Homo sapiens: one gene and its partners. The protein of the gene in region 6 purifies or fractionates together with the protein of the main gene of each other region. This does not show direct contact. Each region holds a gene or a part of one and is shown on either strand. Other genes may lie near its edges.

What was found.
Region 1: the proteins of ZSCAN1 (region 6) and ZNF215 purify together in Homo sapiens (affinity purification with mass spectrometry; one large-scale study listed by BioGRID and IntAct). This does not show direct contact.
Region 2: the proteins of ZSCAN1 (region 6) and GOLGA3 purify together in Homo sapiens (affinity purification with mass spectrometry; 2 studies listed by BioGRID and IntAct, with this or other methods). This does not show direct contact.
Region 3: the proteins of ZSCAN1 (region 6) and ZSCAN25 purify together in Homo sapiens (affinity purification with mass spectrometry; 3 studies listed by BioGRID and IntAct, with this or other methods). This does not show direct contact.
Region 4: the proteins of ZSCAN1 (region 6) and ZNF213 purify together in Homo sapiens (affinity purification with mass spectrometry; 3 studies listed by BioGRID and IntAct, with this or other methods). This does not show direct contact.
Region 5: the proteins of ZSCAN1 (region 6) and PGBD1 purify together in Homo sapiens (affinity purification with mass spectrometry; 3 studies listed by BioGRID and IntAct, with this or other methods). This does not show direct contact.
Region 7: the proteins of ZSCAN1 (region 6) and MZF1 purify together in Homo sapiens (affinity purification with mass spectrometry; 3 studies listed by BioGRID and IntAct, with this or other methods). This does not show direct contact.

Annotation. Positions count from the first base shown.
Region 1 is NC_000011.10:6,950,426-6,953,925, reverse strand, and holds part of ZNF215 (zinc finger protein 215), read right to left. Parts: intron 1-3,500. UniProt on the Homo sapiens protein: May be involved in transcriptional regulation.
Region 2 is NC_000012.12:132,808,370-132,811,869, forward strand, and holds part of GOLGA3 (golgin subfamily A member 3), read right to left. Parts: exon of another isoform or gene 3,418-3,500; intron 181-3,417; coding exon 1-180. UniProt on the Homo sapiens protein: Golgi auto-antigen; probably involved in maintaining Golgi structure.
Region 3 is NC_000007.14:99,623,446-99,626,945, reverse strand, and holds part of ZSCAN25 (zinc finger and SCAN domain-containing protein 25), read right to left. Parts: intron 2,890-3,500; coding exon 2,766-2,889; intron 1-2,765. UniProt on the Homo sapiens protein: May be involved in transcriptional regulation.
Region 4 is NC_000016.10:3,140,667-3,143,304, reverse strand, and holds the end of ZNF213 (zinc finger protein 213), read right to left. Parts: coding exon of another isoform or gene 2,617-2,638; coding exon 1,958-2,616; 3' UTR 501-1,957; downstream 1-500. UniProt on the Homo sapiens protein: May be involved in transcriptional regulation.
Region 5 is NC_000006.12:28,284,572-28,288,071, reverse strand, and holds part of PGBD1 (piggyBac transposable element-derived protein 1), read right to left. Parts: intron 2,522-3,500; coding exon 2,365-2,521; intron 993-2,364; coding exon 904-992; intron 1-903.
Region 6 is NC_000019.10:58,051,025-58,055,131, reverse strand, and holds the end of ZSCAN1 (zinc finger and SCAN domain-containing protein 1), read right to left. Parts: intron 2,643-4,107; coding exon 2,504-2,642; intron 1,704-2,503; coding exon 1,081-1,703; 3' UTR 501-1,080; downstream 1-500. UniProt on the Homo sapiens protein: May be involved in transcriptional regulation.
Region 7 is NC_000019.10:58,563,336-58,566,835, forward strand, and holds part of MZF1 (myeloid zinc finger 1), read right to left. Parts: intron 170-3,500; coding exon 1-169. UniProt on the Homo sapiens protein: Binds to target promoter DNA and functions as a transcription regulator. Regulates transcription from the PADI1 and CDH2 promoter. May be one regulator of transcriptional events during hemopoietic development.

The DNA of each region.
Region 1 (3,500 bases), on a different chromosome or scaffold from region 6:
GGACATCCACACCAAAAACCCATCTGTACATCACCATCATCAAAGACTAAAAGTAGATAAAACCACCAAGATGGGGAAAAAACAGAGCAGAAAAACTGGAAACTCTAAAGAGCAGAGTGCCTCTCCTCCTCCAAAGGAACGCAGTTCCTCACAAGCAACGGAACAAAGCCGGACGGAGAATGACTTTGACGAGTTGAGAGAAGAAGGCTTCAGATGATCAAACTACTTCAAGCTACAGGAGGAAATTCAAACCAAAGGCAAAGAAGGTGAAAACTTTGAAAAAATTTTAGACAAATGTATAACTAGAATAACCAATACAGAGAAGTGCTTAGAGTAGCTGATGGAGCTGAAAACCAAGGCTCGAGAACTATGTGAAGAATGCAGAAGCCTCAGGAGCTGATGCGATCAACTGGAAGAAAGGGTATCAGTGATGGAAGATGAAATGAATGAAATGAAGCAAGAAAGGAGGTTTAGAGAAAAAAGAATAAAAAGAAACAAACAAAGCCTCCAAGAAATATGGGACTATGTGAAGAGACCAAATCTACGTCTGATTGGTGTATCTGAAAGTGACGGGGAAAATGGAACCAAGTTAGAAAACACTCTGCAAGACATTTTCCAGGAGAACTTTCCCAATCTAGCAAGGCAGGCCAACATTCAGATTCAGGAAATACAGAGAATGCCACAAACATACTCCTTGAGAAGAGCAACTCCAAGACATACAATTGTCAGATTCACCAAAGTTGAAATGAAGGAAAAAATGTTAAGGGCAGCCAGAGAGAAAGGTCGGGTTACCCACAAAGGGAAGCCCATCAGACTAACAGCGGATCTCTTGGCAGAAACTCTACAAGCCAGAAGAGAGTGGGGGCCAATATTCAACATTCTTAAACAAAAGAATTTTCAAACCAGAATTTCATATCCAGCCAAACTAAGCTTCATACGTGAAGGAGAAATAAAATACTTCACAGACAAGCAAATGCTGAGAGATTTTGTCACCACCAGGCCTGCCCTAAAAGAGCTCCTGAAGGAAGCACTAAACATGGAAAGGAACAACCGGTACCAGCCACTGCAAAATCATGCCAAATTGTAAAGACCATCGAGGCTACGAAGAAACTGCATCAACTAACCAGCAAAATAACCAGCTAACATCATAATGATAGGATCAAACTCACACATAACAATATTAACTTTACATGTAAATGGACTAAATGCTCCAATTAAAAGACACGGACTGGCAAATTGGATAAAGAGTCAAGACCCATCAGTGTGCTGTATTCAGGAAACCCATCTCATGTGCAGAGACACACATAGGCTCAAAATAAAAGGATGGAGGAAGATCTACCGAGCAAATGGAAAACAAAAAAAGGTAGGGGTTGCAATCCTAGTCTCTGATAAAACAGACTTTAAACCAACAAAGATCAAAAGAGACAAAGAAGGCCATTACATAATGGTAAAAGGATCAATTCAACAAGAAGAGCTAACTATCCTAAATATATATGCACCCAATACAGGAGCACCCAGATTCATAAAGCAAGTCCTGAGTGACCTACAAAGAGACTTAGACTCCCACACAATAATAATGGGAGACTTCAACACCCTACTGTCAACATTAGATAGATCAACAAGACAGAAAATTAACAAGGATACCCAGGAATTGAACTCAGCTCTGCACCAAGCAGACCTAATAGACATCTACAGAACTCTCCAGCCCAAATCAACAGAATGTACATTTTTTTCAGCACCACACCACACCTATTCCAAAACTGACCACATACTTGGAAGTAAAGCTCTCCTCAGCAAATGTAAAAGAATAGAAATTATAACAAACTGTCCCTCAGACCACAGTGCAATCAAACTAGAACTCAGGGTTAAGAAACTCACTCAAAACCACTCAACTACATGGAAACTAAACAACCTGCTCCTGAATGACTACTGGGTGCATAACGAAATGAAGGCAGAAATAAAGATGTTCTTTGAAACCAGTGAGAACAAAGACACAACATACCAGAATCTCTGGGACACATTCAAAGCAGTGTGTAGAGGGAAATTTATAGCACTAAATGCCCACAAGAGAAAGCAGGAAAGATCCAAAATTGACACCCTAACATCACAATTAAAAGAACTAGAAAAGCAAGAGCAAATGCATTCAAAAGCTAGCAGAAGGCAAGAAATAACTAAAATCAGAGCAGAACTGAAGGAAATAGAGACACAAAAAACCCTTCAAAAAATTAATGAATCCAGGAGCTGGTTTTTTGAAAGGATCAACAAAATTGATAGATCACTAGCAAGACTAATACAGAAGAAAACAGAGAAGACTCTGATAGACTCAATAAAAAATGATAAAGGAGATATCACCACCGATCCCACAGAAATACAAACTACCATCAGAGAATACTACAAACACCTCTATGCAAATAAACTAGAAAATCTAGAAGAAATGGATAAATTCCTCGACACATACACCCTCCCAAGACTAAACAAGGAAGAAGCTGAATCTCTGAACAGACCAATAACAGGCTCTGAAATTATGGCAACAATCAATAGCTTACCAACCAAAAAGAGTCCAGGACCAGATGGATTCACAGCCGAATTCTACCAGAGGTACAAGGAGGAACTGGTACCATTCCTTCTGAAACTATTCCAATCAATAGAAAAAGAGGGAATCCTCCCTAACTCATTTTATGAGGCCAGCATCATCCTGATACCAAAGCCTGGCAGAGACACAACAAAAAAAGAGAATTTTAGACCAATATCCTTGATGAACATTGATGCAAAAATCCTCAATAAAATACTGGCAAAGCAAATCCAGCAGCACATGAAAAAGCTTATCCACCATGATCAAGTGGGCTTCATCCCTGGTATGCAAGGCTGGTTCAATATACGCAAATCAATAAATGTAATCCAGCATATAAACAGAACCAAAGACAAAAACCACATGATTATCTCAATAGATGCAGAAAAGGCCTTGGACAAAATTCAACAACCCTTCATGCTAAAAACTCTCAATAAATTAGGTATTGATGGGACGTATCTCAAAATAATAAGAGCTATTTATGACAAACCCACAGCCAATATCATACTGAATGGACAAAAACTGGAAGCATTGCCTTTGAAAATTGGCACAAGACAGGGATGCCCTCTCTCACCACTCCTATTCAACATAGTGTTGGAAGTTCTGGCCAGGGCAATCAGGCAGGAGAAGGAAATAAAGGGTATTCAATTAGGAAAAGAGGAAGTCAAATTGTCCCTGTTTGCAGATGACATGATTGTATATCTAGAAAACCCCATCGTCTCAGCCCAAAATCTCCTTAAGCTGATAAGCAACTTCAGCAAAGTCTCAGGATACAAAATCAATGTACAAAAATCACAAGCATTCTTATACACCAATAACAGACAAACAGAGAACCAAATCATGAGTGAACTCCCATTCACAATTGCTTCAAAGAGAATAAAATACCTAGGAATCCACTTTACAAGGGACGTGAAGGACCTCTTCAAGGAGA
Region 2 (3,500 bases), on a different chromosome or scaffold from region 6:
CCTAGGATGTGCCGGAAGCCCCAGGCTGCCCACCTTAGGCCCCCGAGGGACACTGGTGCGCAGGAAGGAATATTCTTTTGTCATAGCCAGGGTACTGGCCCTTGGTAAGTTTTCTGGGTTTAACATGAGCTCAGGATCAAGCGTGCTAAAAAGTCTCGTTTTGGTTGCAGGTTGACTGGACTGAGAAGAAAACAAAAGTACAAAAATTACATTTAAAATCCACAAGCAGCATACTTAAAACTGCCATTCAGAAAGGTGGCACCGATCACTACTCCCTCCGCTGACAACCAGAGAGCACCACCTCCCCAGCCCCTCACCACACAGGGTGCGGCCAGGCCTCCGATCCGTGGTGGTCTCACTGCCGCAAGGCCCCACTCTAGTGACCAGCATGACCACCTCTGGTCTAAAGCACACTCTTCAGTGACTGTGACCTCAACACGTTTAAAACACATCCCAGCAAGTACCTCCTCATCAGACTTCTGTAGGGACCAGCCCCACAGGGTCAGTGGGTCTCCCCCTGTGTGCGGCGACGAGAGTGTAGAAATAAAGACACAAGACAAAGAGACAAGAGAAAAGGCAGCTGGGCCTGGGGGACCACTACCACCAATGCGCGGAGACCGGTAGTGGCCCTGAATGTCGGGCTGCGCTGTTATTTATTGGATACAAGGCAGAAGGGGCAGGGTAAAGAATGTGAGTCACCTCCAATGATAGGTAAGGTCACGTGGGTCACGTGTCCACTGGACGGGGGCCCTTCCCTGCCTGGCAACCAAGGCAGAGAGGGAGAGGAGACACAAAGACAGCTTACGCCATTATTTCTGCATATCAGGGACTATTAGTACTTTCACTAATTTACTACTGCTGTCTAGAAGGCAGAGCCAGGTATACAGGATGGAACATGAAGGCAGACTAGGAGTGTGACCACTGAAGCACAGCATCACAGGGAGATGGTTAGGCCTCCGGATAACTGCGGGCAGGCCTGACATCAGTCAGGCCCTCCACAAGAGGTGGAGGAGCAGAGTCTTCTCTAAACTCCCCCGGGGAAAGGGAGACACCAACCCCCACCCCCGCCCCCCCGCCCCCCGGTTCCCGGTCTGCTAAGTAGTGGGTGTTGTTCCTTGACACCTTTTGCTACCGCTGGACCACGATCCGCCTGGTAACGGGCGTCTTCCCGTCTTCCCAGACACTGGCTTCACCGCTAGACCAAGGAGCCCTCTGGTGGCCCTGTCTGGGCATAACAGAAGGCTTGCACTCTTGCCTTCTGGTCACACCTCACTATGTCCCCTCAGCTCCTATCTCTGTATGGCCTGGTTTTTCCTAGGCTATGATTATAGAGCGAGGATTATCATAATATTGGAATAAAAAGTAATTGCTACAAACTAATGATTAATGATATTCATATATAATCATATCTAAGATCTATATCTGGTGTAACTATTCTTGTTTTATATTTTATTATACTGGAACAGCCCGTGTCCTCTGTCTCTTGCCTCGGTGCCTGAGTGGCTTGCCACCCACAGACTTCCTCAACAGAACTTTCCTGGCTACTCTCCAGTTTATTTTATTTTTTTGGATAAACATAGAAATTTTCTTCAAGGCCGGGCGTGGTGGTTCACACCTGTAATCCCAGCACTTTGGGAGGCTGAGGCGGGCAGATCATTTGAGGTAAGGAGTTCAAGACCAGGCTGGCCAACATGTTGAAACCCCCGTCTCTACTAAAAATACAAAAAAATGAGCCAGGCATGGTGGCACACACCTGTAATCTCAGCTACTTGGGAGGATGAGGCAGGAGAATCACTTGAACCCAGGAGGTGGAGGTCGTAATAAGCCGAGATCATGCCACTGCACTCCAGCCTGGGTGACAGAGTGAGACCCTGTCTCCAAAACAAAAAAAAATTTCTTCAAAAAGGAAGAACATTCTGTTGAACTATAACCACCTTAAATCCATAATTTCCTCCGCCTGCCCACATCTGCTTGCACGTGTGGGCGGCAAGCCACCCAGGTGCCGAGGCAAGAGACTGAGGACGCGAACTGTTCCAGTATAATAAAGTATATAAAATAAGAATAGTTATACCAGATATAGATCTTAGATATGATTATATATGAATATCATTAATCATTAGTTTGCAGCAATTACTTTTTATTCCAATATTATAATAATCCTCACTCTACAATCATAACCTAGGAAAAACCAGGCCATACAGAGATAGGAGCTGAGGGGACACAGTGAGAAGTGACCAGAAGACAAGTGCGAGCCTTCTGTTATGCCCAGACAGGGCCACCAGAGGGCTCCTGGGTCTAGCGGTAACGCCAGCATCTGGGAAGACGCCCATTGCCAAGCAGACCATGGTCTAGCGGTAGCATCAGTGTCAAGGAAAAACACCCACTACTTAGCAGAGTTTAGAGAAGACTCTACTCCTCCACCTCTTGTGGAGGGCCTGACGTCAGTCAGGCCCGCGCACAGTTATCCGGAGGCCTAACCATCAACCTGTGATGCTGTGCTTCAGTGGTCACACTCCTAGTCTGCTTTCATGTTCCATCCTGTACACGTGGCTCTGCCTTTTAGATAACAGTAGCAAAATTAGTGAAAGTACTAAAAGTCTCTGATATGCAGAAATAACGGCATAAGCTGTCTCTCTCTCTCCCTCTCTCTCTACCTCAGCTGCCAGGCAGGGGAGGGCCCCCTGTCCAGTGGGCACGTGACCCACGTGACCTTACTTATCATTGGAGATGACTCACACTCTTTACCCTGCCCCTTTTGCTTTGTATCCAATAAATAACAGCACAGCCTGACATTCGGGGCCACTACCTGTCTCCACGTCTTGGTGGTAGTGGTCCCCCCGGCCCAGCTGTCTTTTATCTCTTTGTCTTGTGTCTTTATTTCTACACTCTCTCGTCTCCGCACACAGGGAGAAAACCCACTGACCCTGTGGGGCTGGACCCTACATGCACGCCCCTCAACAGAGCAGCTACCCCACCCCCATCTAGAACCCAGGCCCTCTGCGGCCATTCTAACTTATTTCTCAGTTTATCCTTTTTGTTGTTATAAATGTTATACTTCCCACTAATCTTACAACTGCTAGGATAACTCTTCATTTTTCATACTTGCATTTTTATTTTTTTTTTGAGATGGACCCAGGCTGGAGTGCAGTGGTGCAATCTTGGCTCACTGCAACCTCTGCCGCCTGGGTTCAAGCGATTCTCCTGTCTCAGCCTCCTGAGTAGCTAGGATTACAGGGGTGTGCCATCACATCCGGCTAATTTTTTGTATTTTTAGTAGAGACGGGGTTTCTCCACGTTGGCCAGGCTGGTCTCAAACTCCTGACCTCAAGCAATCCGCCCGCCCCACCCTCCCATAGTGCTGGGATTATAGGTGTGAGCCACTGCACCCAGCCAGATTAAAGTATTTAAAAACATAACCTTAAAGGTATAAGAAGAACACGCTGGTCATTTTATTGATCTTCTTCTACTGAAGAGATCCTTTTGAAACATGACATAGGCTG
Region 3 (3,500 bases), on a different chromosome or scaffold from region 6:
AGACACAGTAGTGGAAGAGAAGGGACCTAGCAGTGAGAAACCCGTTTTGAGTGCTGCACTGGCTGCTCAATTGCTGTGTGATCATGGGAAAATCAATTAACCTCTCTGAGCCTTACATTCACCACCTTCAAAATGGATTGTACACTCATGAAGTTTACTGCACACATGGAGCAGGAATGCAATGGTTCATGATATTATTTTAACTCCCAGACCATGTACCTGACTTGCAGCTACTTCCAGGGACCATCCACTTAGATCTCAAAGTCAACAAATGGAACTTTCCATTCTTCCTCCCTCTTAGGAAAATGCTTCCCTCTCTTTCTGACAGTAGTAACATAATTTTTCCAGGCCCTTAGCCAGGATCCTAAGACGTAGACTCCTCTCTGACTCTTCTCTTTCCTCCCCTCTGGCCAATCTGTGGCCCATCCTTGGAAGCATATTTCAGTAAACCCCCTTCTACATGACCACTGGCCTGGTTCCTGCTCTTACCCCAGTGCCTACACTATTTCAACCCTCCAGACTGGCCGTACCCTGCCGTCAATCCAATTTTCCTCAAGTAAAACCTCCATCACATTACTCTGCGCAGAAAAAATTTTTAAACAAGGACCCAGAGTCCTCACGGACTCCTCAGCGGCCTCACTCTACTCACTCCTGCCTCCTCCTTACTCCTCTGAGCACTCATCTTTCACTCCAGGACCCTCACCATCCTGGGAACCAGCCTGCAGAGTCCTGCATTCAGGTTTCTGCACCTGCTACTTTTTGCCTCTGTGATTCCAAATCCTGTTGTGAGTTCTTGCTCCAGTCCTTGTGGACATTACTGCAATTACAACCCAGACAACAAGGTCTGCACCTCACCGTCTGCTAATGAGAACAGACGAACAACTGGAAGTGATCTGGGCAGCCACCTAGCTCAACCCTGCCCTGTGCATTCAGTCTCTTTACAGGTGAAGCAGCTCAGGCCCAGCCCCAAGCAGCTGTCAGTACAAGCACCAGGACAACCCGAGTGTGAATCCCAGGAAGACCTGAAAGCTGGGACAGCAAGTGAATGGTACACTTGGGAAACAGGCCTTCGTGTCACCTGGCGGCAGAAATGTTCAGGTATGGGCTTGAGTTGCTCTGAGTTCTGAGACACTGAGCTGGTGAGGGGACAAGGACAGAACCAGTCTCCAGAACAGTCAGAAATGGCCAGGAGAGCATGAAAATCTTCTGAGAATGGGGGCGAGGGGCTCCTCACCCCACACAGCAGCATCACTGGGAGGGGAATATCCCTGAGGGGGACCCTGGCACCAGGACACTGGCACCTTTGTCTGGGGCTCATCACTCGAGCCCCTGCTTTGTTCTGTCATCCTCTGCCGTTACAGCAATCACACATCTCCACATAAAGTATGCTGACATCTTTCTGCCACTTGCATCACTGCCACACTGTGTCAACCGTGCCCTGGACCCAGGTCTCCCAGGAGACCAGTGCCCCTTACCGTATCCCACTATTACATGCACATGGCCTCTTCCCCTGAACTCTAAGACCCCACAGGCAAGCGCCTTTATTTTTAACTCTTCATAGTGACCAGAACAGCAATGGCCACAGAGCCAAGTCCACCTCTGTGGTGAATAAATGAGTGAAGGCTGAGGGCTCCTACAAGAATCCCTTAGTAATACTTACAGCACTAACTAAACAATCTAACACTACCATGGTCACCACACATTTAGATATGTCACCTCCCTTCATCCTCATGGCACCATGAGGACAGGTTCCATGAACAGCCCCATTCCACAACAGAGGAAACTGAGACCTGGAAAGCTCAAGGGAGATGCTCAAGGTCAGGGTCAGCAAGTGGAGGGGCAGGATGGATTCTCTTACGTCCTGAAGGAAGCACAGGGATAATCTTGCTCTTCCTTCAAGGCATTTCAGGATAAGGAAAGGCTAGGTGGGGTCGGTACAGATGGGTGGTCAGTGTACAACTCACAAAGAAGTTATGAAACAAAAAAGAAGAAAATCAAAGAACAAGGACAGGCCGCTCCAGCCACAGTGTTTCCTCTCCCCGCCGGCATCCTGATTCCACGCATGCAGACTCTCCATACTGTCCCTTGCCCTGGCAGCCCCAAAGCCCCGCAGTGCGCTCTGCTGGCAGCCCCTGTGGGCTCTCTCTCGCTGCTCCTCCTCCCATGAGCTGCTGTCACACACAATGGCCGCATCCCCCCAGGCTCTGAGCCCAGGTCAAACCCAGCCACCACCTGAGTCCCAGCGCAGCTCTGCTTCCTCTGTGACTCGGGCCACTCCAACCTCTCCCATCGCGAAGCCCCCTCGTGCCCTCCTACGTGCACACCGTGAGCTCCAACGCTTTCGTGCACGTTAGTCCTGCCCACTTCCTGCCGCAAGAGAAAACCACTAACACAGGGCCCACATGCAGGGAGCACTCAATAAATATCTGAACAAGCTCAGATGCCCCATCTTTTGCTGTTCGTATCTTGTTCTCAAGCCCTCAGTGTCTTTAATCATGGACACAATGTAGGTGTTTGGGGGTCCTCATGACCGACCTGTCTCCATACAGCCAGAATAATGGCCTCATGTTTTCCTGCTCCATCATTTGGCTCCTCTATTGACACAGGAAAGCAGCTCCTCGTGCCCCATGGTCCGTGCTGGACCCATTTACCCGCCTGCCATGAAGTCCCCTTCCTTTGCCAGGAGCGCCAGAGCTACGGCAGGACCCCTGACCTGAGCTTTCAGAACTCCCCAGTTCCTCACCTGTGGGTGGAGACAGTCTTACCTGGAGAGACCCTGCAGTCCTGCGGTTCCACATACTCCCCAAAGCAGTCTATCTGGGCTGGGGTCACATGCCTCCACTCCTCCTCAGGGAAGGCCAGGGCCATATCTTTAAATGGCCCCAACCCCTGCAACAATAGGAGATTGCTATGAATAAAGAAAGAATCCTAGGCCAGAGACAGTGGCTCATGTCTGTAATCCAACTTCCTCCCAACCAGCTTCCTCCCAACAGTTGAATGGGAGTAATCCACTTGTTTGAGCCACTGCAGTTGTGAGCCTCTGTGGCTGGGGCTCAGCTTGCCCCTAACAACTAAGTCACCTCATTTCCACTCTGCAGCAGCCTCCCACTCACACCTCATGCTTGACAGAGCCTGGCAGCCGCTATTTACCTTCTCATCAAGAACAAAGTTCACATTCGGCCAAGCCCTGTCTTAAGAACAAGGCTGTGATAAAATAAATGCATCCTCAATTTCTCACTCACTGCACCACGAAGAACTATTATGGTACAAGGGAGGATCCAACCAAATTAAAAAGCACTGATGTCATTCCTCATCCCCTCCAAAGTACATCCTTGGAGAACAGGAAAAGGGAAATGATGCTGGCATCCAGCCTTGCCCAAATACGGCTTGAGCAGGACCAGACTTGATCCCCTTCTTTTTTCTGCCAAACACCTTTTCTTCTTCAAAGAACTCTTTTAGACTCGCCTCCTTGAGGAAGGTGCCCCACTGGAAAGCCCCCA
Region 4 (2,638 bases), on a different chromosome or scaffold from region 6:
GCACCCACCAGCCCTTGGTGGGTCCCGGCCTGGGGCTCCTGGTAGGGAGAAGTTGGATGTCAGGGGCTGGTGGGAAGGGCAAGCCCGCTGTCAGCCCCTCCTCCAAGGGACTCAGCCTGGGGCAGCCTTGAGTTCCAGATCCCCAACACGCAGCAAGAGGGTCCCACCACTGACCAAGCAGCGTCTATGGGCCCTTCTTCCTTTCACAGTTGTGGGAGAGGAGTGGCCTGGTGAAGACCCTGAGTCCTGCTCAGCTCCCCGTTCTGCTGGAGCACCGACGGTGCTCCCAGAGCAGGGCAGGCACTAGCTGACACAGGGGGACAAGAGTCCCAGGGGACACGGCTGCCCATTGGGGCCCAGCCGACCTGGACGCCAAGGACGCAGCTCCGCCTGGTCACGGTGCAGCAGCATGTGCCACCAGGACACAAGGCCAGGGCAAGGGGCATATATTCCAGGTATCCCCACCCTCCAGCTACCGAAAGAACAGAACAGCCTGGAGGTAAGTTTTCACGTTTATTAATACTCTTCTGTTGCCCTTTGGAGGTCTGAGGGGGAGTCCTTGCAGGGCCTCTGGTCTGTCCCTGTTCATGGAAGGCAGTGCTCAGGAGGCAGCAGCAAAGTGCCAATGAAGCAGGGCGTTAGTGCCGATGGAGCAGGGAGCCAGTACCGGTGGAGCTGGGCGTTGGTGCCAATGGAGCGAGGCACTGGTGCCGGTGGAGCGGGGCGTTAGTGCCGATGGAATGGGGCACCAGTGCCGTTGGAGCTGGACGTAGTGATGATGGAGCAGGGTGGTAGTGCCGACGGAGCTGGACATAGTGATGATGGAGCGGGGTGGTAGTGCCGATGGAGCCGGACGTTAGTGACAATGGAGTGGGACACCAGTGCCGATGGAGCAGGGCGTTAGTGCTGATGGAGTGGGGCACCAATGTCAAAGGAGCGGGTCATTAGTGCCGCTGGAGTTGGGGCGTTAGTGCCAATGGAGTGGAGCATTAGTGCTGATGGAGTGGGGCGCCGAGTGGGGCATTAGTGCCGATGGAGCGGGGCCGATGGAGTGGGGCGCCGAGTGGAGCATTAGTGCCGATGGAGCAGGGCGCCAGTGCCGATGGAGCAGGGTGCCGGGGCCGATGGAGTGAGGTGCTAGTGCTGATGGAGTGAGGTGCTAGTGCTGATGGAGTGCTAGTGCTGAGTCTGGTGCAGCCCCACCTCTGGAGGAAAAGATGGCAGCCAGGCGCCCTGTTCTTGGTCTCCAGGGTTGGCCTCCTGTCGCTGGAGCCACCATTATCCTCACCAGATTGGTGGGCAGGTGGCTCTCAGAGCCTCATGCTAGGGCAAGTAGGCCGAGGGCAAAGGCAGGCCGAGTCCGTATGGCCAGGACAGGGCAGAGTGGTCATGGCCTGGAAACGGGAGTGGGAGGGGGCCAGAAAGCCCCTGCCGCCGTGACTAAGACCCGCGGTCCCACAGGTGTGGGCTGTCTCTCCCAAAGTCCAGCAGCCCCCTGGGGGGCCAAGGCCAGTCCTCCACGCCCACTGAAAGGCACAGGTTGGTAGGGCAGAGGCCTGACCCATGGACCCACCCCACAGGGTGGGGGCCAAAGAGCCACACAGTCAAATGAGGCTCGGGGGCTTCTGGGAAGGGACCTAGACCTGAGTCCTTGCCACCCTGCTGTCCCTGCCAGGAATGTGTTGGGGCTCCAGGAAACTAGAGGGGAAGAGGAACGCTAGGCGCAGAAGGGGGAAAGAGGACAAGATCGGGGGCGGGAGGGGAAGGCTTCCGTTCCCTTTGAGCGCTGGGCAGGTCCTCAGAGCCAAGCAGGGCAGGCGAGCTCCGAGTGTGAGGTACCCTGGGGTCCCTCGGACAGCCCGGGAGGTGGCCACAGATGGAAGGAGAGTCCCAGTGGTGAACAAAGCAGGATGTGCCGTGGCTGGGCCTCCCCCGGGTTTCCGGCCAAGCCAGCTGCTCACCCCACGGGCTGGGCCATCTTGGCGTGCAGGCTCTGATGCGCGATGAGGTGCGCGCGCTGCTTGAAGCTCTTGTCGCACTCTCCGCAGCCGAAGGGCCGCTCACCGGTGTGCACACGCCGATGGTCCAGCAGGTAGGAGCGCAGCGAGAAGCTCTTGCCGCAGTCGCTGCAGCCGAAAGGCTTCTCGCCCGTGTGTATGCGCTGGTGGTCGGCCAGGTAGGCGCTGCGGCTGAAGCTCTTGCCGCACTCGGAACAGGAGAAGGGCTTCTCGCCCGTGTGCACGCCTTGGTGGCGCACCAGGTCCGAGGAGCTGCGGAAGCTCTTGTCGCACTCAGGGCACTTGTGTGGCTTCTCGCCCGTGTGCGTGCGCTGGTGCCGCGCCAGGTCCGAGCCCCAGCGGAAGCGCTTTCCACACTGCCCGCAGCTGTGCGGCTTCTCGGCTGCCAGGTCCCGGAACTGGCGCCGGCGAGTGGGTGGCCGCCCCCGTCGCGCGCCCACCACTGGGCCCAGGGCCGCCCTCGGCCGGTTCTCGCTCTCCCAGGCCTCAGCCTCCTCGGGGCTCCAGGACACAGTCACGTCGCTGCCTGTCTGGCCTGGCACCACCGGCACCATCTCCTGCAGCAGGGACTTCTCACTTTGGCCTTTGAGCCCAAAACCTGCAAGGGGAAGGAGGCGACC
Region 5 (3,500 bases), on a different chromosome or scaffold from region 6:
CTTATTCCTCCTTAATTTGAACTTACTAATTATATTTCAGTGCAAACACCTGACTACGTTGTTATTTCCCTAGTTATAATCACATCAAGCACTTGCATTTTGAAACACTACTTTTAAAATAAATAACTTTTTTGTTTCTACATTATACCATTAAATTACATTTAAGGGAATTATGTTGATTTTCAGAATGTGCATGAGTAGGTTTTATTTTCTAGATACTTCTTATCAGGAAGTATTTGTTAATAACAGGAGGCACTGGGTCTGATAGAATTAAAAATTAATTAGAAGCCATAGAAGAGGACTGAGCAAGTGTCTTGAGGAAACTGATGTGGCAGCAGTATGCAAGAGGACTTAAATGAGAGAGTTATTTTTTTTTTGTAAATAAATGACTAGGAAAATGAATGAACCACTAATAAGAAAAAAAACCAGAGTCCATTTTGTGAAGAAGATGTTAAGTATTACCTTAGATATATAGAATTTCCATTATTATCACCAAGCATTAATTGCATACATGCTGAATATAAAGTAGTGTGAGAAAGGGCCCTTATTCTAAAGCTGGGGAGATAAACCAGAGACTTCAAAGGAGAAAATATCAGTTACTCAACATCAAATGAGTGGAGCACTTTCTGAAACCAGGAGCCTCACTCCACCCCTCACTCCCATGCCTTGAGATTTGGACGTGCCTCCTGAACAATGAAATGAGGCAATGGCATATAATCAATACAAGCTCCTCGAATGATGCAACACACTTTGTGATATTCTGTGACAAGGTGAAGGCAGAGGGACTATGCCACCTGAATGGCTCTCACGATGATGAGTGTGAGCCAAGAGAAGGGCAAGGAACATGGAATGAGGGAGAAAGACCACTACTGATATTCCTACAAGCTTGGGCATCCTACTTACCTGGGACCTGACTGGGTTAAACACAGGCACTACAGCCTTGTCTCTGGGGTTTTTTTCCTGGAGATGAGCTGATCCGTGGGGAACAGGCCCTGCAGAGAGAGAGGGCAAGAGTCCTAAATGAGACATGATGGCCTTTAGGGTACCCTTTTTGGAGACCCAGCCTTTTCCCCCAAATGTTATGTTTGTTAAACATTCAAGAACTAAGACGTAGATTTTACAGTGTGAGAAAGAGCATCACAACTGCTTTCATTCTGTCAGAAATTCTAAAATTCTACAACTTTAGGGTCTCTCACCCAAAAAATGGAGTGGGATTTATGAACTCATAAGGTGCTTTACAGTCATGCACTTTCACATAAAGAAAAAATAAAAATCATAGACAAAAATAAAGGGGAGGAAGAAGCTGGTGATAAAGGAAGGATCAAGGAGAGAACACAGAGGCAAAAGAAAGGATGTAGAGAGTAGAGAGATGAGACTGAGGGGAAACAGGAAAGCAGAAGAAAGGAAGATGGAGAGAGAGACAGGAAAATAAAGATATTTAAAAAAATAGAGAAGAGATGTTAGCCATGAACTAGAAAAACTGTTAGGAGGTACTGATCCCAAAGAACCAACAATAATCAAAATGGTGATGATGACTGCACAAGGCCAGCCACTGTGCTGTTACTTTAAAAGATTATTTCCAATCCTCAAAATAATCAAGAAGGTCCAAATTATTGCCTCCAAAATCCTAGGCACATTCAGAAGAATCACAGCTGAGTGCAGAGTACACACAGAGATCAAACAGATAATTGTTGATTAACTGAATAACCTATTAAATGACTTGCCTAGGTCACAAAGTTGGCAGTTGGCAGATGGCAGAGTACAAAATTATCAAATGAAGAGCACATGTGGTAATTCTAACCCAAAAATATAAAACAGAACATCACTTTTCTTTGCTCTGCTTTTCTTTGCTTCCATAATGGATCACTATGGAATGTTTTTATTGCTGTTGTTGCATTTCTAGAAGGAATAAAGTTTGCTGGAAAAAAACAGCCTTGCCCCGATTCACTTTTACTATTATATGTACTTGTCCACAACACATACATACTAAATAAACCAGCTTAAAATGCACAGTGTAAAATAAAGCAGGTCTTTACAAGTTTGTTCAGATACAGGGTTAGACAAAAAAATAAAACTTGATGTTGGTCACAGGGTATAAACTTGCAGTTATAAGATGAATAAGCTCTGAAGACCTACGTACAGAATGCTGACTATAGTTAGTAATAATAATATATTGTATACTTGAAATTTCATGAGAGTAGATCTTAGGAATTCTTACCACAGACACATAAAAGGTAACTGTGAGATATGTAAGTTAGCTTGTGGTAATCATTTCACAATGTATACAAACTTGAGGTCAAGAAGGCTGTGCAAGTGTCAGTGGCCAGCTCCCAGCGTCCTCACTAAACTCACTCGAGCACTCACCACTCACTTCTTGGGGGTTCCCTTGAGGACGCTGTGGAGGTTCACACTTCAGGGTGGTTATCCCAGGCAGGAGCTGGAGGCTCTGACACTCCAAAGAGACTCCTTGATATTCTGCCACCATTGGGTGCATGTCCTGTCCCTGAATATAGACAGAGGCCTGGAAACAAAAGATTTATTTTGAAAGGGCATGCATATATGGACTGCATGCTAAGAGCCTGGCACTGTTCTACATGCTGGGGATACAGCAGCAAACAAGGCAGAAAAGACAGGCAAAGGATCCCAGCCCAGAAAAACAAAAACAACAAACAAGTGGATGTTTAAACTAGCTGGTGAAAATTTAATGAGGAACAGGATATGTACACCACCTCAAAATGTCTCCCACAGATTACTTAGTAATTACAAAGGGGAAAATGGTAACTTTCTAGTGGAGAAAATTGACAGGTACCACCATAACCTCATCAGTAATGGGACAAATCATCACTACGCACCTCCTGAAGTAACGCACTGAGAACACAACATTACCTCTGTGGTATTCTAGCCAAAATGTGCAGCCTGAATCATGAGAAAATATAGGACAAACTCAAATTGAGGGATAGTCTCCAAAAAAACTAGCTGTACTCTTCAAAAATAACAACGTCATGACAAAGACAGCAGCTACTCCAGATTCACAGACTAGAGATATGGCAACTAAGTGCAATATGTGATGCTGGCTTGTATCCTGAATCACAGGAAAATTATCATAAAGAACATTATTAGGATAACATGGCAAAATATGAATAAGGACTAAGGTTATATGATAGTATCGTAAGTTTAATTTCCCTAAACTTGATTTTTGTATTCTTGTGATACAAGAGAATATCCTCACTCTTCAGAAATACACACCGAATAGCCAGGTGCAGTGGCTCATGCCTGTAATCCCAACACTTTGGGAGGCCAAGGCAGCATGATCACTTGAGGCCAGGAGTTCAAGATCAGCCTGGGCAATATAGTGAGACCCCACCCCCGCTACAAAAAATTAAAAATAAATTAGCCAGGCATGGTGGCATGCACCTGTAGTCCCATCTACTCAGGAGCCTGAGGTGGGAGGATTGCTTGAGCCTTCCACCATTGCAGTTCAAGGCTGCAATGATGCTATG
Region 6 (4,107 bases):
GTGTTTCCAAGTGAAGTCGGGAGGAGAAAAAGAAAAAGGCAAAAACTTTTAAGGCTTTTGCTTGAAAGGGGACGAGTGTCCGACAACAATGAGTTGGGGACGGGTGAGAAGCCGAGTCCGAGGCTGGCTCCCCGCTGTGACGTCACCGCCTGCCCACACTCTGCTCCAGCCTAGCAGGAGAGGCGGGCCCACTCTTTGGAGACCATCTGATCCTTCCTGGCAGACCAGAAAGCCAGATTTTTATGGTTTAAACAAATGTTGGCATCTATCTAAAAAAAAAATCCTTCTGTAAGTCAAACAAAATACAGGCAGGTCAGTTTTGGTCAGGCCTAAAGACTGCGCCTGAAATCCTCAGAGACAGGAAGCAGATTCTGGTTGTCAGGGCGGGCAGGAATGGCGAAGGCGTGCTGAGGACTGTGGGCTCTCTTTCTGGGCAAGACGAAAACATCTTTGGAGCTAGAGAGTGCTGGTAGTTGCACAGTGTTGTGAATGTGCTTAATGCCACTGAACTGTTCATTTTTAATGACTGAAATGGTAAATTTTATGTTGCATGTACTTTACCCAAAAAAGGAAAAAAACAAAACCCTGTTTATCTGTTAGGTTCCAAGGGGGCTAAGCTGGCAGGAGGGCAGCCGGGGTCAGCTGTACCCTTCTCTGGAGTTGGAGCTGCCCAGGCCGGCTCCCACCCTCATGGCCTCAGGGATATCCACAGTGAAATGAAAACCCAGCGGCAGAAGCTGCCGCTGAGTCAGGTGCTAACAGGGAGACCTGGACAAGGCTTCTGAAAGATGGGACGCGAATGAAACTCCTCTTCAAGCCACTTGCAAAACTATAGTGCGCAGGACTGACCAGGCTGTGCTGTGGAACTGCTGCTTCTCAGCTGAGACCCTGGGAAGCCCCATCCCGTGCTTGGCTTCGGAGCAGGTGTCCAGGGTCTTCCGAGAAACAGCTTGTGTCCTTCAAGAGGAGTCCCAAGGTGGCCAGGGGTTGGTGGGGCTGGGGGATGTCCCCCATCTTCTGGGGCCCATCAGCTCCCCCCAGGGACTCAGGGCCGGGTGGCCGAGGCCCGAGGCTGGCCATTCACATGTGGCCGTGGGCCGTGTGGAGCTTCTGGTGGTCAATGAGGTGGACCATCCAGGGGAAGGCCTTCCCGCAGACGCTACACTGGAAGGGTCTTTTGGGGCTGCGAGGGGCCACTGGGCCCTGGGCTCCATCCCTGGGTGGGACGGACTCCCGGGGGCCCTTGCTCCGGGGGGCTTTCTTCCTCGGTGGCTCCAGCAGGTGGATCTTGCCATGCTCAGTGAGGACGGAGTTGTGCAGGAAGACCTTGCCACACTCGGGGCACGGAAAGGGCCCTTCCTCGCGATGGGTCTTCTGGTGCTCGATGAAGTGGGTGACCCAGGTGAAGACCATCCCACAGTCGGCACACTGGAAGGGCCGCCCACCTCGGGGCCCACGCGGCACTACCGAGATGCCTGCAACAGCCTCTTGGGTACCACCTTTGGTGTGCTTGAGGGATGGCTGGTGGCGGCCGCTCTGGTCAGTGTTCCTGTTTCTCCTTCGGGGACTGATTCTCTGAGCACTTGGACCCTTGGGGCTCGAGATCACAGTCCCTTCTGCCCGCAGGTCTGAGGAGGGCCCTGCGAGAAGGTCCTCAGGCTCGTCCCAGATACTCGGCTTCAGAGGCAAGCGGGCCCGGGACCCTGTGGAGGGCGAGGGAGATGGGTCACCTGTAGTGAGTGGATGGCCTTGGCATCTCCCTGTGCTCCCCAGGGGCACGGAGGACCCCAGTGACTGAGCCAAGTCCAGGCCCTTCCTCTGCTCAATACGGCCCCTGTGTCCTCCGTTCTGTCCTTTAAGATACAAGGGCACATGTGGCCGGTGCAGTGGCTCATGCCTGTAATCCCAGCACTTTGGGAGGCCGAGGAAGGTGGATCATGAGGTGAGGAGTTAGACACCAGCCTGACCAACATGGTGAAACCCCGTCTCTACTAAAATACAAAAATTAGCTGGGCGTGGTGGTGTGCGCCTGTAATCCCAGCTACTCAGGAGGGTGAGGCAGGAGAATCGCTTGAACCCAGGAGGCGGAGGTTGCAATGAGCCAAGATCACACCACTGCACTCCAGCCTGGGCAACAGAGCAAGACTCTGTCTCGAAAAAAAAAAAAAAAGGCACATGTTTTGGGAGCAGATCCCACAGCACTGGCCCTTGTTCCTACCTGGCTGGCCCTCTGGGTAACCCCGTGCTCCAACACTCTCAGACTGTCTGCCTTGGCTGCCGTTCAGGTGCGGAGGCTGAGGCCCTTCTCGTAGGGTGAACGATGTACATGGTGGTTCTAGGGGCCCCAGATCTCAGTCCTCACAGGAGGTGTGCATGCTTTCTGGGGGAAGTGTGGAGTTCACCACCGAAGCACCCAACTCAACCCATTAACAAAGTCTGTGGCTTTGGGTTGAAGTCCCAAACTCCATTTCCAACCCTTAATCCACACAGGAGCCAGACTCACCCAGCAAGCCAGGGGCGCGGGGCGCTTCGGCCTCCGCCCTGGTGTGCAGACTCTGCTGGAGCTGGGTAGTCTCCAGCCACTCACTTTCCTCGGGGAGTGCTGGGGCTGCTGCCACTGCATCCAGAATCAGCTCAGACGCCTAGAATGGCAAGCACAGGACTGTTCGGCAGCTGCCCCTCAGGAGCCATCCTCCCCACCACCACCGAACAACCAAGGAACGGGCGTCATCCCCAAAGGCTCTGTCCCAGGGCAGTGCGCGGTGTCGCGCCTGTTGTTCCCGTGCTTTGGGATGCTGATGCTGGAGGATTGCTTGAGGCCAGGAGTTTGGGACCAGCCTGGGCAACACAGCAAGACTCTGCTTATACAAAAAATAAATAACCACTCCTAAAGAGCTCTTAACAGGACCTGAGACAGAATTCGAGGGGCCCCTGTACAAAATGGAAATGCAAATCCCCTTGTTCAAAGATCGTTGATCATTTCAGGACAGTGACAACAGAGCATTAGATGGAGCCAGGGGACCTGTGCCACAGCTCGGGTCACTGTTACAAGCTGGGGCTCCTAACTCCCGTCCCCCAAGGCTGCACTGTCCTTGCCCACAAGCCCAGAGGAAGTGGGCGACTTCACAGACTTCACATCCCACCTGCGACCTATGACCTCTGATGCACCTAACCGTGTCCCGCCCAAAGCGGGGATCACCACTTCCTGGGAGGAGACTGAGCTGTGGTTGAAGAGCAAGAATTCGAAACAGAGGGGCTTGGCTTGGTGTCCAGGCTCCAGCCCTGCTTGTTGTGTGGCCCTGGATGAGGAGCTTTAGCTCTCTGGGTTTCCAGTGAGGATGTGGGTGCTACGTGCCCAGAGCCTGGTACCATCAAGGGCTCGGCAAACTGCAACGGAGTCGTGTCAAAGGAAAACACAGTGACACTTATCAATGCAAATCAGGTTGTTGGAGGAGGTATGTTGAGTCAAACAAAGCATCAGAAAAGACCAGGAGTCAAGCACGCACTGACAAGGTCTGTCTTGAGTGGGTCTTCGCTTTCTGCTGCCCCAACCCTACCTGGATGCACAGGGGCCTAAGGAAGCTGTCCAAGATTCCCAATAGCTGGGCAAAACTGGAGTAGAGGGATTGCTGGGCTAGAGACGGAGGAGGGAGGGAGGGAGGGAGGGAGCTGATGGCAGGAAGGGAGTTAAGGCACAAGATTCTTCCTGCTCTCACGTTGGGAGTATGTGGATGGTGTGTTTGGCTGGGTTATTGATTTTTATTTCTTATCAAATGCTAGTTTTGATTGTAAAACATGTTGAATTCTGAAATCGTAACCAGAGGAGCCACCATCTATAGGAGTAAAGGCGGGACTCCCTTTTACGCCTCTTCCTGGTACCTGGCTACTGGGGGCCATTGTGGACAGTCAGGCTCTTCCCTACTTCACCCACCTTGGCGTCTGTGACTAATCAAGGGCAGCAGAGGGGCTGCGTGGAGAGAAGAGTGGGTGGCATGTATGTGTGGAGAGAGGGGCATGCTTAGTTCCCCTGACTCTCAGGGGGCATCAGAGGAGCTATCGACACACTTGGGTCAGGCACAGAAACCAAGACATTCCCGGGGCCCTATC
Region 7 (3,500 bases), 510 kb from region 6:
TCACTCCTCAGATCGCTGGGGAGCAGAAGCGCATGCGCAAAGCCACCTTCGCGGGAGGGTGATTGGATCTGGCCAGAAAGGCCAGCCATGCCGAGGTCCCAGGGGACGTGGAGGTGAGGGCTTACACTACCTGGACCTGCGGAGATGCTGCCTAGCTGCAGCGCGAACCCTGCATACACAAGGGGACCATTCATTCATGACAGAATGCCCACCGTGCCGGGACCCACTTCATCCCTGGGGACACAGTGTGAACTACAGGGACCTGAAACTGACCAAAGAGGCAGACGGAGGCGACAAATGCAGGGGTAGGGATTCTATCTGTACAGACTTCCCTGATGAGGTGATAATGAGACAGAACCCAGCACAAGGAGGAAGACTGGGCTATGTGAAAAAGCTTTCTAGGTCTGATTTAGGTTGGAAAAAATCGTTTTTGGAAGGGCTGTAGGGCAAGCGTGGGGGCATTGTCTAGGTGGAAAATGATGGTCTCAGCAAATGCAGGGAAGTGGGTGGGTCTCGGAGGCTGGAGGTGGAGCCAACAGAAAGAGGGTGCAGGCTCCTGGATAGTGGTCTGGGGTTTGGATGTGCCTTGCTTGTGATGTCTGTGGGGCATCTGAGGAACACAGACTTCATGAAGGCTGTGGGGAAACGTGAGCAAGGGCTCTAGGGCATACACATGGCACACAGAACCCGGGCCTGCAAGTGATCAACACAGGGGTGGGTATCTACAGAGGAGAGAAGTGGGTCCCAGCCACACTGTGAGCACTCCAGCGTCAGACGCTGGGTGAAGGAGGAGGCACCAGCAACTCCAACTGAGAATCAGGGCCTGGAGAAGGCGGAAGCCTGGAGGAGGTTAAATCAAGAAGACTGAGAGAGCAGTGAGGGCTTTTAGTGGTGAGAGAAAGTCCATAAGTCGCCAAAGAAAAGTCAGATAAACTAGAATACATCAAAGGAAATCAGCAAAAACCACATCAGAGTCAAAAGACAAATGGCCAAAAAACAAAAAAAATTAAAAAAGGACAAATGGCAAACCAAAAAACTCTCCACAGGCAAAAGGCTAATTAACCTCCTAAGTAAAGAGCTACAATAAATCAGTAAGAAAGATCAATAACCTCATAGACACATGGGCAAAGGATGTGAACAGGACAGGAAATGTAGCTAATGCTTATATCCCATAAAATACACTCCATCTCCTCCTAGTAAGAAAAATGCACCTTAGGGCTGAACTCATCTGCCATTTCCACACCCTGACTGCAGGGACCCAAGTGTTCCTATGTATTGCTGGTAAGCATAAATGGGAAGACAGTGTGGTAAAATCCATCAAAACAGCAAATGTCCCACACTTTGTTCAAGTAATTCAATTTTTAGGTACTTCTTCAACAGTTGTGTTCCTCCTTGTACTAAGTGACCTACATACAAGGTTTTCAATGGTGTGTCCACAGTGAGCCACAGTGGGGTTCTGTGTAGCTACCCAAAGATGTAGAGCACTTGCTGCTGTGTACTTAAGTTGGAAGATGCACAAAAAATGCCAGATGTGGAACAGGGTGGAGAATAAGCATCCATGTGTGTGTTTTTTTTTTTTTTTTTTTTTTTTTTTTTTTTTTTTGAGACTGAGTCTTGCTGTGTCGCCCAGGCTGGAGTGCAGTGGTGTGATCTCGGCTCACCGCAACCTCTGCCTCCCGGGTTCAAGCGATTCTGCTGCTTCATCTTCCTGAGTAGCTGGGATTATAGGCGTGCACCACCATGCCTGGCTAATTGTTTGTATTTTTTTTTTTTTTGAGACGTAGTTTTGCTCTTGTTGCCCAGGTTGGAGTGCAATGGCGTGTTCTCTGCTCACTGCAAACCTCCATCTCCTGGGTTCAAGCGGTTCTTCTGCCTCAGTCTCCCGAGTAGCTGGGATTACAGGCATGCACCACCACACCCGGCTAATTTTGTATTTTTAGTAGAGACAGGGTTTCTCCATGTTGGTCAGGCTGGTCTCGAACTCCCGACCTCAGGTGATCTGCCCACTTCAGCCTCCCAAAGTGCTGGGATTGCAGGCGTGAGCCACCGCACCTAGCCAATTTTTTGTATTTTTAGTAGAGACATGGTTTCACCATGTTGGCCAGGCTGGTCTCGATCTCCTGACCTCATATGATCCACCCGCCTCGCCTTCCCAAAGTGCTGGGATTACAGGTGTGAGCCACCACGCCCAGCCCGTGTGTGTGTGTGCGCACTTGAGACGGAGTCTCGCTCTGTTGCCCAGGCTGGAGTGTAGTGGCGCCATCTCAGCTCACTGCAAGCTCCGCCTCCCGGGTTCACGCCATTCTCCTGCCTCAGCCACCCGAGTAGATGGGACTACAGGCGCCCGCCACCACGCCTGACTAATATTTTGTATTTTTAGTAGAGACGGGGTTTCGCCGTGTTAGCCAGGATGGTCTCGATCTCCTGACCTCGTGATCCGCCCGCCTTGGCCTCCCAAAGTGCTGGGATTACAGGCGTGACGTGCCGCGCCGGGCCCATGTGTGTTTTAAAGGAGAGGAATGGGGCTGGGCACGGTGGCTCACGCCTGTAATCCCAGCACTTTGGGAGGCCGAGGCGGGTGGATCACGAGGTCAGGAGATCGAGACCATCCTGGCTAACACGGCGAAACCCCGTCTCTACTAAAAATACAAAATATTTAGCCAGGCGTGGTGGCCGGCGCCTGTAGTCCCAGCTACTCGGGAGGCTGAGGCAGGAGAATGTCGTGAACCCGGGAGGCGGAGCTTGCAGTGAGTCGAGATTGTGCCACTGCACTCCAGCCTGGGCGACAGAGTGAGACTCCGTCTCAAAAAAAAAAAAAGAAGAGGAATGGGCCAGGCATGGTGGCTCACGCCTGTGATCCCGGCACTTTGGCAGGCAAAGGTGGGCGGATCACCTGAGGTCGGGAGTTCCAGACCAGCCTGACCAACATGGGGAAACCCCGTCTCTACTAAAAAAATACAAAATTAGCTGGGCGTGGTGGAGCATGACTGTAATCTCAGCTACTTGGGAGGCTGAGGCAGGAGAATGGCTTGAACCGGGAGGTGGAGGTTGCAGTGAGCCGAGATCGCGCCATTGCACTCCAGCCTGGGCAACAAGAGCGAAATTCCATCTCAAAAGAAAAAAAAAAGGGAATGAACATGTGTCTGGGAATGTCTTTGCTTCTGTATGTACAGAATCTTTTTACAAAGACACATAAGAAACAAGCAGTGTTGGCTGCTGGAGAGTAAGACTGTGTGGCCCAGGCAGGGAAGGGGCATTCCACTGTATACTGTCTTGTGCCTTTTGAATTTCCTAACATATGAATGTATTAGCTATTCAGAATAGTCTCCTGATGAAGACATAAAAAGACCTCTCTGAGCCAGGTGTGGTGACTTGAGCCTGTAATTGCAGCTACTTGGAAAGCTGAAGCAGGAGGATCACTTGAGGTCAGGAGTTCAAGACCAGCCTGGGCAAAACAGCAAAACCCTGTCCTTTAAATAAATAAAGCAAGACTCCATTTC